Homo sapiens: one gene and its partner. The protein of the gene in region 1 interacts with the protein of each later gene in a pairwise test. Each region holds a gene or a part of one and is shown in the gene's direction. Other genes may lie near its edges.

Region 1 (3,757 bases):
ACCTACCTTTCAGGGCTGAGCATGGGTAAGGGAATGCATGCAAAGTACTGTGCTTGCCACATTATAGGGCTTGATAAATATAAGAAGAAAAGGACATTTCCAAGCAGCTCCCATTTCCCTGGACACCCCGCCCCTGCTCTGCCACCCACAGCAGGGAAATCATGGGATGTTAGGAACTGTGTCCTCATCCCTGCCCTACTCCATTGCAGGGATGGCAGGGGGAGATTGCAGGGGTAGTGACTGCAGAGGGAGCCTGAGGCTTAGACAGGACTGGAGAGGGGGCACTGCATGGCTTCAGTCCTTCAGCCCCACAGGCTTCCCTTAGTCCCTTCCTCCCAAAGAAGCCAGGCCCCCAAGCCCCTTCCAGGGATCTGCTGCCAATGCCCCCTCCTGCCCAGTGTCTGTGTCAGGCCCATACCCCGCACCTCCCCACCCCACCCCCGCCCAGCTCTGCACTGCCTGGTTCTGGGCAGCTGGTGTGTGGGAGGCCAAGCCGGGAAGGAAAGGGGGGAAGGGGGTATCTGTGTACTGGGAGCCCACCTGGCCACCTGCGCATGCCCACACTCCATGTGCACAGTGCCAACTCACATGCCCTGGTACAGGTGACCCCCATCCCCAAAAGGGACTGAAGGTTGCTCCAGCAATCACAGAAGACAGCTCAGGTGGGGCACACACTGGCTTCTAACACCTAGTTGACCCAGGCCTCGCACACACAGACCCTGAAGGGTGGTCTATGGGGAAGGGGCTCCTGGACCGCCCCCGGCTTGTGCCTCATCTTCCTATTTTTTCAGTCCCTCTCACCCCTTGCTCCCGAAGCTTCCTTTCTCTGGCTGTCACCTCTCCTGTCACCCACTTTGTCAATCAGTCTCCCACCTGTCACCCTTCCTCCCCATCTGCCACCCTCTCACTCCACATGACACGGTACCTCTATGGTCACTGTAGTCTTGCCTGTCTCCCCACTCGCTCTGCCCCCCACCACATCCATGCCCTTCCTGACCTTTCTTCTCTGCCGGTTGCTCCCTGTCTCTCCCTCCATCACCTGTTTCCTCACCTGACACCCCACTGCCCCATCTCCCCACCTCGCCGCCCAGGTTCTCTGTGAAAACGCTGCTGGAGAAGTACACAGCGGAGCCCATCGATGACTCATCGGAGGAGTTTGTCAATTTTGCAGCCATTTTAGAGCAGATCCTCAGCCACCGCTTCAAAGGTGGGCCCAGCGCCCCTCCCCCAGCGGTCCCTCCCCCAGCGCCCCTCCCCCAGTGGTCCCTCCCCCAGCGCCCCTCCCCCAGCGGTCCCTCCCCAACTCCCAACCTTTAGCTCCCAGCCACCTCTTTCTGATATACTCCATGGACTCTGAACCCCCTCATTGACCCTGGCCCCCATTCTGGGCCATGCACAGAAGCTTGTGTACAGATCTGGGAAGAGGGAGAGGCCTTTGGCCTACAATCCCCATCATGGGCAAGCGATATGCTGGGGTGCCCACTGCACACGTGCATGTGTGTGCACAGATCTTTGTGGGAGGAGGCTGCTTATGCTTATGCATGTGAGTGCCTCACTACATGGACCCTCTCCAAACTCCCTGGTCTTGCTGAGCCCCCTCCCTGCCCTGGCTCAGCCTGTGCCCCAGCAGGTCCAGTGAGCTGGTTCAGCTCAGACGGGCAGCGGGGCTTTTGGGACTATATCCGGCTGGCCTGCAGCAAAGTGCCCAACAACTGTGTGAGCAGCATCGAGAACATGGAGAACATCAGCACAGCCCGGGCCAAGGTGAGGGGCCTGAAGCAAGCAACTGCTCTCTGCTCTGGACACAGGGGGCCTGCCTGTTTCTTGGTTTTTGCCCCCTGTGCACAGCCCAGGGGAGAAGGGCCCACACCTGATGCTGGACACATGAGTCCCTCTGGGGCAGCAAGTAAAGGTGAACATGATTTCCAGGGCCGGGCATGGATCCGGGTGGCACTGATGGAGAAGCGCATGTCAGAATACATCACCACGGCTCTGCGTGACACCCGGACCACCAGGTCAGACTTCCCAGGCAACTCAGACCACAGGTCTCAGAGTGCACCTGCATTGCCCAAACACAGCTGATCCTTAAGTTCCTGCAGCATCCTTCAGTTCCTGGACTACAAGTCCCAGCACCAGCACACATGGCTGATTTCCCTCTTCCAGCCTGGCCTGCAGTCCCAGGACGAACTCTTTTTTTTTTTTTTTTTTTTGAGAAGGAGTTTCGCTCTTGTTGCCCAGGCTGGAGTGCGATGGCGCGATCTCGGCTCACTGCAACCTCCGCCTCCTGGGTTCAAGCGATTCTCCTGCCTCAGCCTCCTGAGTAGCTGGGATTACAGGCATACGCCACCATGCCCAGCTAATTTTGTATTTTTAGTTTCTCCATGTTGGTCAGGCTGGTCTCAAACTCCCAACCTCAGGTGATCCTCCCGCCTTGGCCTCCCAAAGTGCTGGGATTACAGGCATGAGCCACCGCTCCTGGCCCCAGGACAAACTTTTACCACCACCACCACCACCACTTGCAAGTCAAATCTAATGCCCATTATTTGCCATCAATGCCCAGCACGCTCCACCCTTGCACACCTCTGGATGAGCCTCAGCCATGCACCATCTCAAGTGTTGGCTTGCTCCATGATCTACAACACAGCCCTTCTGTCTCTCCAAACAACGAAAGCAGTTCTGTACTTGCTATTCACGGACACAGAGTCCTTATATGGGGAGTTCAATCCCTGCACTGTGGGTTCACAGGGAGGTTGGGTGCCTGAGGCAAGGGGTTACAAGGAGGAGTGTGCCTGTGTGGGCAGGTGCATCTGAAGCTGTCTGGGTGTGGCGGGGGGCATATACCTCCCCATCCCAATTGGCCATACCCAGCCTGATGTTTTTACTGAATTCCATTCCTCAGTCTACACGTTTCAAGTTAACACGTTTTTTGCGCACCTACTGTATACCAAGCACTAATGATTAAGACTTGCTTCCTGATATGAAGGATCTGGGTAACCCAGTACTTGATGAGGAAGGGGTAGCTCAGAGGGAGGAGTCGGCTCAGGGAACACCCATTCTAGGTGATGGGGCCACAGGTGCGAGCCCCAGGCTGAAGGGGGAGAGAGGCTCCAGGCCTGCGTGCAGATCAGGAAGGAGAATTGGCCTTCCTTCAGGATGGGGTGGCAGTAAGCCAACAATAGCAGCTCTGGGGGGGGGGGGGGCGCTCCAGGGGCCTGCTGCATCCTCTGGCCCTCTGCCTCCCCACAGACGGTTCTATGACTCTGGAGCCATCATGCTGCGGGATGAAGCCACCATCCTCACCGGAATGCTGATCGGACTGAGCGCCATCGACTTCAGGTGGGGTCTGCCTGACGGCAGTGGTGGAGGGGGCTGTTTCCCCCATAAATGTCCTACCCCAACCCCTCACACCCACCTCCAACCCTGTGGCTCCTCTGCCTCAGCTTCTGTCTAAAGGGGGAAGTCCTGGACGGGAAGACCCCCGTGGTCATCGATTACACGCCCTACCTAAAGTTCACGCAGAGGTGAGCGGCTCCATGACTGCGGCGGGGCGGGGGACGGGGCCTCGGGACATCCTGGGGACGTCCTGGTCCCACCGCCCTCAGCGGCCAGCGCAGACGCGCGGGGGGAGGGGCGGGACCGGCCGTGCCCACTGCTCCCTCTCCCAAGCTACGACTACCTGACGGACGAGGAGGAGCGGCACAGCGCCGAGAGCAGCACGAGCGAGGACAACTCGCCCGAGCACCCGTACCTCCCGCTC
Region 2 (2,941 bases), on another chromosome or scaffold:
GGTTTTGATTTGGAAATAGATTTAAAAGAAAACAGGCTAAGATAATATCCTTGTTCTCATTTACACCCTGCAGTTTGGACCACATTTGACCTCATAAGTTTTTCCTTTTAACAGTAGGAGGCAGTGTGAGCTTTTTATTTTTTATTTTTCTTAAGGTGGTCTTAGTAATATAACATGTTCATACATATCAAGAGAGTACTTGGTATACCTTAGGTCTATGAAGTGTAGCTGAAATCTGAAGAGTCTTGACAAAGGGATTTACACCCTTGACAAAACCAAAAGAAATTAACAGGCCACAGGTTTCTTTAAAGCTGTGTTAACATATCTTGCCTTAAAATGTGTGTGTGTGTTTTTGCTTTGCTTTTTTTTTTTTGCCCAAGAGGCATCTCAGTACTCCAGCAATGGAGGAAGAATAGAGAATTTTGCCTGGCAATGGTCCTACTGCCATTTTTTTTTTCCCACTCTGATCTCACTTAAGTTTGATATCAAACACAATTGGGAGGCAATAGTATCAATATCCTAAATGTAGAAATTAAAAGATACTGTATAATTTTATGCCTTTGCAAAGATTCGTTCTTGTATTTGAATAAATTCAGTTGCTAAAGTAGATCCAAAGTGTTAAAAATGCTGAAGTCATGTCAAGTACTGTCTGGAGGGTTTTTTTAAGAAAAGGCATTTGGCATTTAACTGTCTCTTGTTTTATTTTTAAGTTTTTGGAAACCTTTTGACATAAAATGCTGCCAAGTATCTAAGAAATGTATATACTGACAGAAGATATTTGAAAGTGGAAAATTGGAAATGAAATATGTTGCTGGGTGCGTTAATCACCTCCGCCCAGGATTTAGTCACTTGCAGGACCTCTTTATAGTCTAGGATGGCAGAGCAGAAGATTTTAATATGCTTTTATTAAGTGATGTAAAATAAATGCTTTTTGGATTATCAATGAAAGCAATTTTATGTGTGCCTGAAGCAAGAAAATAGCGTTTTTGGTTTTATCTCATATTTTCTTGGCAAAATTGAGAGAAATTAGGAACACTGCTATTTTTTTCTTAAAAATGTTTTTAAGAATATGTTCGTTTCTTTGACTATTAAGAACCCCTTGTGGTATTAGTGTGTGAAGAGATAAGGGCATTTGTTTCAATGAAAAAGTTAGTGTTAAAGGAAGTGAGTCAGGGAGGGCGGAGTTTGTTGTAAGGCAATCACCTGTCAAAACAGAAATTGGGTGGGAAAGGAGTCTTTATCTTGGGGAGCAAAAGCTGACTTTTAAACTTGACCCCTGCTGTTTTTAAACAGCTTTTCCTTTTGGTCTCTGACAGTCAATCCAGGTTTTATGTTATTTCAAAAGGGTTATTTTTGTCCTCCTTTTTTAATAGCTTCAGGAAAGTTAAAGGTATCATCTTAGGTCTAACACTCTAGTCTTTGAGAGTTACGGTTCTTTCGTAGAACAATTTCCATGTTGTTAACTGTTGTAGACTTAATTGAATCACATTTTGGGACCAGATGTATTTGGGGATAGAATTCTTTAAATGTATGGGACTTCATGCTTCCTGATTATGTAATATTTCCTGTGGTTGGGAATCCTAGAATGCCTGATCTATTTTATCTGTTCAGGTAGTTTTGTTATTGTACCCTCTTTTGGGTCATATTCTAGTATTTCTCACAGGGGGTATGAGAAACAGAAAGCTATATGTAGCAGCTGGTCTTGAGAAGTAGAAGCATCTTAACTGTCATAAGAGCATAGATTTTTTGTTTTTCACAACAGCTGGAATAAGTTCCTGCATTATAAGTATAAAGGGAACCGAGATTTAATTTGGAGATCATCACTGTTAAAACGATACCAGACATTTGTCACAGTGTCTTATTTGGGGAAAGTTTGCTAATATACATTTTGTCTGTGAAAATATAGTAAATTTTAAAATACTAATATAATGTGGTATTCTTGATTACAGTATTTTATGCAGACTATTAGGAATGATTCAGTGCATTTAACTGAACACAGAGCTAGTTCTAGGTGAGTGAGATCTTTATCTATTAACTGGATTTTGAAGGTTTGAGAAGGCTATGGGGATCATCTGGTTGAAAGGTTCTCAAACTTGACCATATATCAAAATCACCTGGAGCTTAAAACATGTACTGCTGGGACCCTCCTCCAGTTTCTTACCCAGTGGGTCTCGGGTAGGGTCTCAATTTTCATTTCTAACAAGTTTCCAAGTGATTGTGTTATTGCTGTTCCAGGGACCACACTTTGAAAACCAGTGATCTAGACTGAACTCCAAATGAGTACTATACTGACAGCCACCTAGATATTGAGAGACACAGACTTCAGACTCATGTCACACATTTTGGAGTGCTGTCTACTACAGTTAGAGAATAATCTCTATTGAAATCTAAGCTAAAGAGGACATATACCATTTATACTAAGACTAACTGTTGTGTGTGAAATAGAATAAACATTGCAGGTAGTTTTTGATCATTTTCACATTATTACAGGAACATTTTGACTATGGTTTTCAATGTTAATTCAGAAGTTGACTTTAAATGAAAATGTGGTTAGAATAGAGGCAAAGCCTAAGTGATCAGAATCAACATTCCCCTTCTCCCCAACCTAGGGGAAAAAAAATTTGAAAAGTATGTCTTCAATAAAAGGGGACACTTTATTTGTCTTCTCTTCAACATTAAAAAACAAAGATTTTAAGTTTTCATGGCAAGGGTTCTAAAAATCATTGTGCCAGAGAATTTAAATCTTCATATCATGGTAAGCACATGCGTATGTCTGTGACTCAGTTTCTTAGCCAGACTTCCAGGTGTTAGTTAATTCCTTCTCATTTAGTTCTACTGTAATCCATTCTGGGAAAATGCATACCACAAAACTGTGTATCTTGCAGCTTCTTTCGTTATGCATCTTAATTCCCTCAGAAGGTCCCAGAACTTTATGTTAAAG

What was found. Proteins that work in one complex are often made in the same cells at the same time.
Region 2: the proteins of RUNDC3A (region 1) and RAP2B interact in binary tests that used the Homo sapiens proteins (3 or more experiments, as listed by UniProt).

What each region holds. Positions count from the first base shown.
Region 1 is NC_000017.11:44,311,489-44,315,245, forward strand, and holds part of RUNDC3A (RUN domain-containing protein 3A), read left to right. Parts: intron 1-1,091; coding exon 1,092-1,207; intron 1,208-1,615; coding exon 1,616-1,764; intron 1,765-1,929; coding exon 1,930-2,015; intron 2,016-3,246; coding exon 3,247-3,336; intron 3,337-3,440; coding exon 3,441-3,521; intron 3,522-3,666; coding exon 3,667-3,757. UniProt on the Homo sapiens protein: May act as an effector of RAP2A in neuronal cells.
Region 2 is NC_000003.12:153,165,246-153,168,186, forward strand, and holds part of RAP2B (ras-related protein Rap-2b), read left to right. Parts: 3' UTR 1-2,941. UniProt on the Homo sapiens protein: Small GTP-binding protein which cycles between a GDP-bound inactive and a GTP-bound active form. Involved in EGFR and CHRM3 signaling pathways through stimulation of PLCE1.